Linked DNA regions of Homo sapiens: regions 1 and 3 are each linked to region 2. Evidence: fine-mapped expression QTL. A gene starts in region 2. Each other region holds a variant in brackets. All regions are shown on one strand. Distances are from middle to middle. Region 1 has its middle 21 kb from the start of LINC00955. Region 2 holds the start of LRPAP1 (LDL receptor related protein associated protein 1). Region 3 overlaps LRPAP1 (LDL receptor related protein associated protein 1).

The links. PIP is the estimated chance that this variant, and not a neighbour inherited with it, causes the effect.
Region 1: its variant is fine-mapped to the expression of LRPAP1 in whole blood (TOPMed, PIP above 0.99). The same link has a PIP of 0.9 or more in blood mononuclear cells.
Region 3: its variant is fine-mapped to the expression of LRPAP1 in whole blood (TOPMed, PIP above 0.99).

Annotation. Positions count from the first base shown.
Region 1 is chr4:3,553,662-3,557,853 of GRCh38, forward strand. No RefSeq gene overlaps it. Among named protein-coding and RNA genes, the nearest start is that of LINC00955, 21 kb to the right of the region's middle. The variant A/G (reference allele first, on the strand shown) is at 2,442.
Region 2 is chr4:3,530,694-3,534,885 of GRCh38, forward strand. LRPAP1 (LDL receptor related protein associated protein 1) reads right to left here and starts at 1,729. Exons shown (of 8, transcript NM_002337.4): 1 at 1,516-1,729. The coding sequence starts at 1,719. RefSeq lists silencers at 1,219-1,468, 1,909-1,968 and an enhancer at 1,509-1,718.
Region 3 is chr4:3,506,896-3,511,087 of GRCh38, forward strand. LRPAP1 (LDL receptor related protein associated protein 1) reads right to left here. Exons shown (of 8, transcript NM_002337.4): 8 at 1-4,192. Among named protein-coding and RNA genes, the nearest start is that of LRPAP1, 23 kb to the right of the region's middle. RefSeq lists an enhancer at 1,954-3,153. The variant G/C (reference allele first, on the strand shown) is at 1,793.

The DNA.
Region 1 (4,192 bases), 23 kb after region 2:
TGGAGCCCCTTTACTGTTTTTTTTTTTTTTTTTTTTTTTTTTTTGAGACAGAGTCTCGCTCTGTTGCCAGGCTGGAGTGTAATGGCACAGTCTCAGCTCACTGCAACCTCTGCCTCCTGGGTTCAAGTGATACTCCTGCCTCAGCCTCCCGAGTAGCTGGGATTACAGGCACACATCACCATGCCCGGCTAATTTTTGTATTTTTAGTAGAGACGGGGTTTCACCATCTTGGCAAGGCTGGTCTTGAACTCCTGACCTTGTGATCCAACTGTCTTGCCTCCCAAAGAGCTCGGAGCTCGGATTACAGGCGGGAGCCACCGCGCCCGGCCCTTTACTGGTCTTTTATAGTCACTTTCTCTCTAATCCTTTTTAATCTCTTTCCTCTTTCTTTCCATTTGCTCACTTTTTCCTTTTTTACATGATTTTCGTGGTGTCTCTGCTCTCGTATTACCTGTAACTTCATTTCTTCATTTCTGAAATGGTTTTGTCTTTTTCTTCAGTTTCCTTCCTGAATTCTGTCATTTCCTACCACAGACTCCGCTGCCGTTTGGCCACCTCTTCCCTGCGTTCTTATTCTGTGCTTATTCTCCTCTGTTCTTATTCTGTGCTGTAGTCTCCCTTCGGAGCTGAAGTTCTTGTTGGAATATTAGATCATGATTTTCATCTGGTTTGTGGCAGTATTTGTCTGATGAGATTTCTTCATTTGTAGGAGAATAGCACTGCTTTTATTTTTTATTTTTATTTTTTAAGACTGCAGCTTGCTCTGTGACGCAGGCTGGAGTGCGGTGGCACAATCGTAACTCACTAGAGCCTTGACCTACAGCCTGCACTCGAGCAATTCTGCTGCCTCTGCCTCCGGAGCAGCTGGGGACTATAGGTGCATGCCACCATGCCTGCCTGGGTTTCTTTTTTTATTTTTTTGAGAGAGGGTCTCCCTCTGTCACCCAGGCTGGAATGCAGTGGCACAATCTCAGCTCACTGCAATTTCTACCTCCTGGGCTCAAGCGATTCTCCCATCTCAGCCTTCTGAATAGCTGGGACTACAGGTGCACACTATCGTGCCCGGGAATTTCTTAGTATTATTATTATTTTTTTTTTTGTAGAGACAAGGTTTCACGATGTTGTCCAGGCTGGTCTCGAACTGCTGGGCTCAAGTGATCTGCCCACCTTGGTCTCCCAAAGTATTGGGCGTGAGCCACTGTGCCTGGCCTTTTTTTTTTTTTTAAGTTAGACACTTAGGTCTCCTTATGTTGGCCAGGCTGATCTTGAACTCCTGGCCTCACTCAATCCTCCCGCCTCTGTCTTTCCCACAAAGTGCTGGTGTTACTGGAAAAGGGGGGGCTCTGATCCAGACCCCAAGAGAGGTCTCTTTGATCTCATGCGAGAAAGACTTTGGAGCGAGTTCACGGAGTAAAGTGAGAGCAAGTTTATCAGGAAAGTAAAGGGATGAAGAGGATCTGAGGTCTCCTCCCCTCCCTTTTGAGACCTTATAAGGTAACCTCCAGACATTGCCATGGCATCTGTAAGCTGTCATGGTGCTGGTGGGGGTGTCTTTTAGCAGCTAATGCATTCTAATTGGCATATAATGAGCCGTGAGGACAATCAGAGGTCACTCTCGTGGCCGCCTTGGTTTTGGTGGGCTTTGGCCGGCTTCTTTACTGCAACCTCCTTTATGAGCAAGGTCTTCATGACCTGTATCTTGTGCCGACCTCCTATCTCATCCTGTGACTTAGAATGCCTAACCTCCTGGGAATGCAGCCCGGCAGGTCTCAGCCTCATTTTACCCAGCTCCTGTTCAAGATGGAGTTGCTCTGGTTCACACGCCTCTGGCATTGGGATTTCAGGCGTGAGCCACTGCGCCCGGCCAGCATTGCTTTTGGAAGTGGAGAGCGTGCCCATTCTTGTTACTCGTTTATTTGAATAGGATGGTTGTTCCGGCCAGGAGGTGCTGGGCCACGGCTCCTGGGAGGACCTCAGCACCACTCGCTCCTGTTGGCAGCTGAGCCAGCCCACCTTGAGGTCCTGTGCCTGGGTTACAGCTGGTGGTGTGTGGGTGCACAGTGATGGCCGGCCTCTGAGAGCTGGGGCGGGCCAGTGCGGCCTGACTCTGCCTGTAGGAAGCTCTAGAACAGGTCACGCTGATCTGCAATGAAAAGTCGCCTCTGGAGGGGGTGCAGTGGGGACTGATGAGCGCATATCTCGGGGGTGGTCAGGTTCTTATCTTGGTGGAGTCCGCTTTTGTCAACTCCCTGAGTGACACCCTTGAGATCTGTATAGCATGCTGGGTTGAACTGTGACTCCCAAATTCATATGTTGAAGTCTTGACCCCTGTATCTCAGAATATGCCAGGGCAGAGTCAGCAAAAAGAGGAAAATCTCCAGCCGGTTCCCCAGCTCTGAGCCTGTACCTGCCTTGGGGCCAGGAGAGGCTGAGGTGTGGGA[A/G]AAATGCATATTTGGGTTCCTCTGCCAGAGCATGGTCCTCCGTGGAGTCGGCCTCCTGCAGAGGGGAGCAGCAGGTGCTGTTGCATGCTACCGTCTCCCCTGAGCCTCTCAGGGTCTCCTTAGGAAGAGGGTGCATGTTCCCTCCCAGGTGCAGCTCACCCCTACCTCTGCCCCCCACATCTCCCTCCCCCCGCCCCAGGCAGCCCCCAAGACTTTCCTTGCCCTGAACTCCCATCTGCCTCCCGGGTCTGTCCTCTGTCCCTGGCTGCTCGGGTCAGCGTGGCCTCCGGTTCTCTCCCTTTCTGTCCCTTTTGCACTCTGGCTCCCTCTCTAGGCTGCGGTGCAGTGAGGACGCTGCCCAGGGCTGGAGGCTGGCGGGAGGTTGGGTGTGATGTGAGGCTGTGTTGCCGGCTGTTCTGGGGATGCTGACAACATTAGCGTGGCTCATGTTTATCGTGGGTCTAGCTCCCCTTGTACAGACATGGTCCTCTTCCCTTCCTCCGCGGAGGCAGAACCCTGATGCGTCGTGGGGCATGTAGCTGGCCAGAATGAAAACCTGCATCTCCCAGCCTCCTCCCTGAGGCTAAGTGGAGCCGAGCTGCTAAGTCGTGGCCAGTGGGTTAAAGGCAGAAGTGCTGTAGGAGACTTCCAGGAAGATGGCTCAAAAACAAGCTGACTCAGCTGGGACTTCTGGGAGGGGCCCTTTTCTGCCCTGTACTTTTCCAGCTTTCTTCCACCTGTCCTGTGGTCTTGATGGCTGGAGCACCAGCAGCCACCTTGGACCATGGAGTGGCTTTGAGGCTAGACACTATGCGTGGAGGACGAGGAGCAGGACAGCCAGGATCTGGGTCCCTGAGGACATCGAGGAGCTGCCACCTCACCCTCAATCAGTCATCCCCAGATTCTCCCTTCAGAAAGAAATCAGCTTCTTTCTTGTTTATGCTTCTTTTGCTGGGATTGTCATATGCAGCGAAACCAAACTGTGGAGTCCCGATCAGCTGATAGAAATGAGGAAGGGGTTCCCTCCTCTGCACAGCTCCATGGCACCACAGGCCCTAGCTGGCAAGAACATGAACTAGGGTCGGGGAGAGCCGTTGTTCTAAGAAATGGCTAACCACAAGCAGCCCGCTTGCACAACCTCATGTTACCAAATACCTCACTCTGCACGTTAGCTCCAGCAGCATGACCCTGTCTGCATGGGGCCTCTCCAGCGTGACCCTGTCTGCATGTGGCCTCTCCAGCGTGACCCTGTTTGCATGTCGCCTCTCCAGTGTGACCGTTTCCACATGTAGCCTCTCCAGCATGACCCTGTCTGCATGTGGCCTCTCCAGAGTGACCCTGTCTGCATGTGGCCTCTCCAGAGTGACCCTGTCTGCATGTGGCCTCTCCAGCGTGATGCTGTCTGCGTGGGGCCTCTCCAGCGTGACCCTGTCTGCGTGGGGCCTCTCCAGCGTGACCCTGTCTGCGTGGGGCCTCTCCAGCGTGACCCTGTCTGCGTGGGGCCTCTCCAGCGTGACCCTGTCTGCGTGGGGCCTCTCCTGCGTGACCCTGTCTGCGTGGGGCCTCTCCAGCGTGACCCTGTCTGCGTGGGGCCTCTCCAGCGTGACCCTGTCTGCGTGGGGCCTCTCCAGCGTGACCCTGTCTGCGTGTGGCCTCTCCAGAGTGACCCTGTCTGCATGTCGCCTCTCCAGCATGACTGTATCCACATGTGGCCTCTCCAGTGTGACTCTGTTTGCATGTGGCCTCTCCAG
Region 2 (4,192 bases):
TGCAGGGGCAGCCTGAGGGCAGGTGTATTGCTGCAGGAGGCCTGGGCTGACAAAGACAGAGGACCAGCTGGAGGTGGCTGGAGGTAAGGTGGAGCGCACCAGGGCGGCCCTGCAGAGCAGGTGGAAGACTTGGGCCAGCACCCAAAAGGGAGCCGCTGGGGTTCCTGGGTCCGAGTGCACTTCCTCAGCGCCACCTCCAATCGGTCAGGGAGTCTATTTCGGGCTCCCCATTCCTCATGGGGAGGGGGGACTCCACCCACTCAACAGATGCCCAGTGCAGTGGGCACGGGGAGGCAGCACTGCATCCCGGCTGCTCCTGGTCACACCTGTTCCCTGCTGCTGGGAGGCCATCAACACATCCAAACCCAGCCGTGTCCCCAGCCCCTCCAGAATCCCTTCCTCCAAGAAGCCGCCCTGCCGCTCCAGCCCAGAGCGTTCTCCCACCTCCCACCTCCGCAGGCTGAACATTACGCCTGGGGCTTGACTGCTGGTCCCAGGAGCAGTTCAGGAAGGGCCTGTGGAGCTGATGCCCAGGCGTCAATCCCCATCCCCACGCAGTCTTATAACCGTCTGTCGTCTGTCTGTCCCCCACCTGTTTCTCCTCTCCCTTTTCGTTCCAAAAGTTCCTTCTTATTCTGCAAATCACTTACTTTCCCTCTCAAAGACTCAGGAATGCTTAAAACTGGACTATTGAGACAGAGATCTAATCTGACTCCTGCATTTGAGATGAGATAATGAGGCCCAGATGGTCGGCATAGTTCGAAAACACCCATTTCAGGTGTTTTCAGGAACACCTAACAAATGAAGCAACCGTATCTTAATGAAGAGAGCAGCTGGCCCAGGGTCACGCACCAATTAGGAAGCTGTTGTCCCGGGGGGCCCCACCGGCCGAGCCACCTTGGGGGTGCCCTTTCCCCTCGGGGCCTCCGTACCCTCATCTCTCAAATGAAGGAGAGGTCAGGTGAGCGCCCTGTTAAGACTGACTTTCAGCATTCCCAAGGTCGCGTTTTATGTGCTCTAAACCGATCCCATCTCCTCACCTCCTCATTTCTCGCTCAAATGAACAAGCACGGGCTTGCTACTGGGATTCCTTCTGTCCCTGGACACGTCTTTCTACCCAACATTTTGTTTTTCTTGTTTCCCCACATAGGGAGATAAGGTTGAGGGAACAGGCAAAGGCTCGGGAGGCAGGAGACCTGTGATCTAGCCTGGTTCTGTCCCTACGCTCGGGTCAGCAGGCCGCCCAGGCTGGGGAGGGCGACACTGACCCTCGGGGTGCCGGCCGCCACCTGCTTCACACGGCGTCGTCGCCGGCACGGGTACCTTTCCTGCTGCAGAAGGGGTCGGGGCGCCCCACCTGACACTTGGGGGAGGCTGTGCCAAGGACAGGGCGCGTAGGGCACAGGTGCCCCGGCTGCGCCCCCCTCCGCCTCCGACCCCTGGGCCCCGCTCCAACGACCCCAACCACGGCCCCCGCCCCCAGGCCCCGCTCCACCGACCGCGGGCCGCGCTCACTCGCTGGGCCTTCTCCCACAGCTGGTTCAACTTCTCCATGCGGAACTCCTCTCCGGACTCGCGTTTCGGGGACGGCTTGGGCTGGTTCTTCTCCCGCGAGTACTTGCCGCCGTGGCTCGCAGCGGGCCAGGGCCCGAGGAAGAGCAGCAGCAGTAGCAGCGCCGGGAGCCCGCGCAGAAACGACCTGACCCTCCGCGGCGCCATCTTCCTCTGCGACTGGCGCTGCGCGGAGAAAACCTAGCCTGCCGATGCCCCGCCCACTACCCCGCCCCCACCCACCGCGCGGTCTCCTGGGAATTGTAGTTCCTCCGTGAGCGGCCGGCAGCGGCGAGGCCGCCGGCGGACTCCAGCGCCTAGGAAGCCCTGCGCAGGCGCAAGCGTTTCCCAGGCAACCACGCCGCGGCCCGAGGCTGCAGACTCTGGCAGGGGATACAACTGGAGAATGAGGGTGGCCGGGTGGGAGCAGGGATCAGGCCTCACCCAGAGCCCGGAGCCTGGAGCCCGCACGACTCGAGGCCTCTTTCCCTCTCTGCCCCACAGAAAGAGCGGAAAGCCCAAGAACCGGGCCGCGTTTGGCTGAGCCTGATAATGCTCCGGCTTCACGCGCACTGACGCCGACTCTTGCATGTCCAGTGCCGTTGCGGGGTTGGCACTGCGGCCCGGGCCTGGCGCTGAGGAGCCTGGCCCAGCCCGCTTCTGCCCTCCGCGGAGCGCCTGGCCGTGGGTAAGCCCAGGCCAGGTTGTCCCGGGGACGCAGGGCCGCGCAGACGTCCCCCTACGTCCCGGGGCCCCTGCCCCAACCCGCGTCCCAAGCGCCTGCTCTCGCGCCTGCTGCAAGGCAGGACTTCGCGCGCTTTTCCCCAACCCATGACACTCTAGGAAATTCACAGAGCCAAAGTTAGCATAGACCGCTCGTTGGGGGCTTGGCCAGTGAGTTGGGAAGTGCCCTGGAGGTAGCGCGGGAAACAAGGGGAAGGAGGGAGACAGACAGCAGCTGGGCCCCTTTGGGCTCAGAGAAGGGACAAGGGGAGCTCATCTGGCAAGAATGATCTGAAAAGGCCTCCAAGGGTGGGCGGGATTTTGCGGGGGGAGGGAGGAATTTCCAACTGGAGGGACAATGACAAAGGGGGTGAATAGAGCCTGGGCATCTTGAGAGGAATTAATGTTAATTCATTTCCTTTTTTTGCGTGGGGGGATAGGGTCTCTGTCATCGAGGCTGGAGTGCAGTGGCATGATCATGGCTCACTGCAGCCTCGACCTCCTGGGCTAAAGCGATCCTCCTGCCTCAGCCTCCCAAGTAGCTGGAACTATAGGTGCGTGTCACCACGCCCAGCTAATTTTTGAAATTTTTTGGTAGAAATTAGGTCTCCCTATGTTGTCCAGGCTGTTCTCCAACTCCTGGGCTCAAGCAACCCTCCCGTCTTGGTCCCCCAAAGTGCTGGGATTACAGGCGTGGGCCACTGGGCCTACCCTAATTTACATTTAAATTGTATCTTGTGTTGTTCCAGAGAAGATTTCAGGTCCCTGGAATCAAGGTGATCTGCTTCTGTCCTGTGCTGCTTTTCTAGTATTTTCAGAGCCATCGTTTCATTTCTTTTTTTCCAGCTGTTGAGTTGTTTCAGGCAAGAGGGTAAATTCAGTCTGTTACTGCATCTTAGCTGGAAGCACAAGTTCCCAATATGGGATGTATGGGGGAGAGGAGGTAAAGGAATCCCCCAGGAGGGTGGTGGAGGGAGAATGACCTCATGCGAAGTGACTCCAGAGACAGATCAAATGCTGTCATTGCCATCATTGCATGTTTTTAAGCCTCAGGACAGAATGGCCAGGTGAGCCTGGCCTAGATTCTCACCTGTGCCTGCCTTCCCCTTGTGTTCCCTCGTTCCTGCTCTTCTCTCCATCTCCTGGTGCCTAGAATCAGAGGTCACCTGTTTTACCCCACATACATGTTTTGCCCTGACCCCACTCCTGAGAGCTACAGGTAGGTCTTGGTGGGCTTAGAAGGGGATAGTCCAAATTGGCCTATCCCCCCCAAGCATGTCCCTGTTGGTCATCTGGAATGTGGTCCTAACTGCAAATGTTCCAGCTCTGTGAATCCTGCCCCCAGTGTCTCTAGAAAGGCCCGTTATAAACCCACAGGAATTGGAAGCTGGACTGGGAGCAGAGTCTTCTGGGATCCTGCATCTGACAGTGGTGTGGGGTTCTAAGAGCCCTTTTCCTATACAGCCCGGTTTCCCAGATAACTAAGCAATATTTTATTCGTGGCTGCATACACAGGCAATGAAACTAAAGAAAGTCAGGGGATGGCTAAAGGATGGAGGATACCTGGGCTGGGGGAGGAGGGAGAATGCGACGGGTGAACACAGACAGGCTTCCAAAGTGGTGTCCAGGTTGTAGTTCTTCACTAGGTGGTGGGCACACAGGCATGCATTTTTCCTTATCTTTAAATTGTACATATTTCATACACTTCTCCGTATGTATTATACATTTCAAACTAGTACATCTTCTAAAAAATCACAGTGGTTAATGCAATCAGTACAGGTGCCAGGCACATACCAGAGACTCCAGGTGACGGCATGCTCTCCTCTTGGGCTCCTCCTCTAGGGCTGAAAGTTTATTTCTCACCCCTGCCGCCAGCACCCGCCATGCCAGCCCGTGTCTCTAAGTGCTGAGGGGAAGG
Region 3 (4,192 bases), 24 kb before region 2:
GACTCACACCTAGACCTGGGAATAACGCTAAGACCAGGCTGGGTGTGGCGGCTCCCGCCACCTGTAATCCTGGCACTCCGCGAGGTGGAGGCAGGTGAATCACTTGAGACCAGGACTCCGAGACCAGCCTGGGCAACACAGCGAGACCCAGTCTCTATAAAAAAAACCTTTTCTTTAAATTAGCAGAGCATAGTGATGCATGCCTGTAGTCCCAGCTACTCAGAAGACCGAGGTGGGAGGCTCGCTTGAGCCCAGGAGTTTGAGGTTGCAGTGAGCTATGATCGCACCACTGCACTCCAAGCCTGTGCGAGAAAGATCCTGACTCAAAAAAAAAGACAAGATTTCCAAGACCCAGTTTTTTAAATAGGCAAAAGAATTAAGTAGGCCCTTCCCAAAGACGCCACCCAAATGGCCAAGAGCAGACAAAAAGGTGTCATGCCTCTGGCACCAGGGAAGTGCAAGTTACTACAAAACGAAAACAAAAGAATCAAATGGATTTAATTGTCTTTTTGTTACTGATTTCCTCCTCAATTGCACTCTGGCCAAAGAATGTGATTTGTATTATTTACCTACATATCATATATTTATACATTATCATCTGCGAATTACTGACATTTGCTTTGGGTCCTAGTACCTCGTCCATTTTTAAAAGATTCCATGCGTGCTTAAGAATGTTTTCTCTAATGGGCATAAGTAGACCAAGTTTTTAACTGTATTATCCCATTCTTTCATATTCTTCATCAATGATCTAAGCCTCTATCAAAAGAACCTAAAACAAGGACAGCAAATTGAACACAAAATAGGTAGAAGAAAGGAAATTCATAAGAAAAGAGCAAAAGTCAATGAAAAAGAAAACAATAGAAAAAAAAAATCAATGGACCCAAAAGTAGGTTTCTTTGGGGAAAATATCTGTAAAAATGATAAACTCTTAGCTAGTCTGATCAGGGGGAAAAGAAAACACAAATGGCCCAGAGCAGGAATGAGAATGGACATCACTGCACAGAGGATACTGTGAATGATTTATGTAAATTGTTTTGATAACTTAGATGAAATTCTGCGACAAACCTATCTTTAAAAAAATGACAAAGGAAGAAACAGAAAATCCAAAAGCCTCATGTCTTTTTTTTTGAGACAGAGCCTCGCTCTGTTGCCCAGGCTGGAGTGCAGTGGTGTGATCTCAGCTCACTGCAACCTCCACCTCCTGAGTTCAAGTGATTCTCCTGCCTCAGCCTCCAGAGTAGCTGGGATTACAGGCATGCACCACCACACCCTGCTAATTTTTATATTTTTAATGGAGACGGGGTTTCACCATGTTGACTAGGTTGGTCTCAAACTCCTGACCTCAGGTGATCCATCCACGTTGGCCTCCCAAAGTGCTGGGATTACAAGCGTGAGCCACCATGCCAGGCCTCATGTCTATTTTTAAAAATCAAGTTCTTAATGAAAAACCTAAGCAAAAAGAAAATGGCAGGCATAGATGGCCTCACCCATCACATCTCTATGAAACAAATAATGCCAATCCTATACAAACTATGGCAGAACTTGTTTCAGGAGGCCCACTTAATGCAATATCAAACCATGACAGACACATCACATGACAAGACAATGAACATCCAAGCCCAGTGTCCCTCAAGAGCATTCCTACACAGGAGGTCCTTAGCCCGGTATGAGCAAATCTCATCTGGCCATGCAGAGAAAAGGCCAATGCACCATGGCCACAGGGACTTACCTGGAAATGCCAGGTCATCTTGGCATATGAAAGTCAGCGTAATTCACTACAGTAATGCGGTAA[G/C]GAAGTGACCTCATGAGCATCTCACTAGGTGCAGGAAAGGCAGCTGACCACATTCAACACGGATTCAGGAAAAGCCCTCAGCAAATGAGGAAGCTCTTCTGCCTGTAAGTGCACCAGTGCAAACCCAACACTGAGCCGGGAGAGACTGAGCCCATGTTCACCGAGACTGGGAATAAGATTAGCGAGCGCCGGCTCACCTCACCAGTGCAGTGAGAAGCCGAGGCACAGACTGACAAGGGGAAGCAAAGCCACTGTCAGACAGAGGACACGCGTGTGCACACGGAAACCCCACGAGTCCACAGAAACACCGCCATGGCCAAGGCGGGAGTTTAGGGCACAGGATTAAAGCACCACGCACAGGTGACAAATGAAATAAAAATACACAGTCCTCAATAGCATATCGAACACCTAGGACTAGATCTAAAGGAAAACATGCCAGACACATGCACAGAAAACTCCAGTTCATTGTTGGGAGAAGTTGAAGATGAACTCAATACCTGGAGTCATACATGGCAGTCAACGCATGGACACCGGAGACTGTTGAGACGCCGACTGGAGTCACACACGGCAGTCAACGCGTGGACACCGGAGACTGTTGAGACGCCGACTGGAGTCACACACGGCAGTCAACGCGTGGACACCGGAGACTGTTGAGACGCCGACTGGAGTCACACACGGCAGTCAACGCGTGGACACCGGAGACTGTTGAGACGCCGACTGGAGTCACACACGGCAGTCAACGCGTGGACACCGGAGACTGTTGAGACGCCGACTGGAGTCACACACGGCAGTCAACGCGTGGACACCGGAGACTGTTGAGACGCCGACTGGAGTCACACACGGCAGTCAACGCGTGGACACCGGAGACTGTTGAGACGCCGACTGGAGTCACACACGGCAGTCAACGCGTGGACACCGGAGACTGTTGAGACGCCGACTGGAGTCACACACGGCAGTCAACGCGTGGACACCGGAGACTGCTGAGACGCCGACTGGAGTCACACACGGCAGTCAACGCGTGGACACTGGAGACTGCTGAGACGCCGACTGGAGTCACACACGGCAGTCAACGCGTGGACACTGGAGACTGCTGAGACGCCGACTGGAGTCACACACGGCAGTCAACGCGTGGACACTGGAGACTGTTGAGACGCCGACTGGAGTCACACACGGCAGTCAACGCGTGGACACTGGAGACTGTTAAGACACCGATTCTTCCCAACATGTATTCAAGACATTCAGAAAAGGTATTCAAAAATGCGTTCAAGGGAATTGCTATTGAAATTCCAGAAGGCATGTTTTTTTGGTAGAAATTGAGACACTGATTGTAAAACATATATGGAAACACCAAGGACATAAACAGCCACAAGAATCTTTAAAAAGAAGAGTTGGAAAATGCACATCACCTCGATTCAGGGTTTATTATAAACCCAACTGTAGCCAAGACAGTGTGGCGGCCGGGCACCATGGCTCACACCTACAACCTGTAATCCCAGTAGTTTGGGAGGCTGAGACAGGAGCATCACTTGAGCCCAGATCAAGACCTGCCTGGGCAACATAGTAAAACCCCGTCTCTACAAAAAAAATAAAAATAAAAAAAATAAAATCAGCCGGGTGTGGTGACACACGCCTGTGGTCGCAGCTACTACTCAGGAGACTGAGGCGAGGGGATTGCTGGAGTATGGGAGGTCAAGGGTGCAGTGAGCTGAGATCACGCTACTGCACTCCAGCCTGAGGGACAGAGCAAGACCTTGTCTAAAGTGTGGCAATGGCAAGAGCGTAAGGACAAACAGAAACAGACCCACACAGGTAGGTCAGTTGATTTCTGACAAAGGCGCCAAATTAGGAGAAAAAAGCCTATGCAGCAAATAATCTGAAAGTTAAGGGAGAAATGGATCCTGACTGCAACCCACACTGGAAACGTACACTCCTGAGTAGGGACTGGATACACACGCGGCACACACCCACACAACAGGCCGCCACGCGGCAATCAGGAGTCTGCCGCTGATCCACGCAAAAGCCTGGGTGAATCTCAGATGCTGAGCGAATGTAAGCAGATACACGCAGACATACACAGACGCACGCAAAGACACAGACTGCCCAGAGCCATGCACGTGGAACCCATGGCAGGCGGGAGGTAGGGAGCTGCGGTGGTAGGAGTCAGAATGGGTACCCCTGTGGGACTGGCTCTGCGGAGTGGAGGGCATCACCTACATCCTTCGTGAGTGCGCACCATGACCAGCCACACCCATGGAACTAACACTCGGTATCTGGGTTTTTTGTGTAACTGCCTCCCCTCAACACCATGGTCTCCCACATACAAAAGAGGCCATTATACAGTAAGACACGCTACTCCGCAATTAGACACCACAAAACGCCAGCCAGGCTGTCCATAATTAA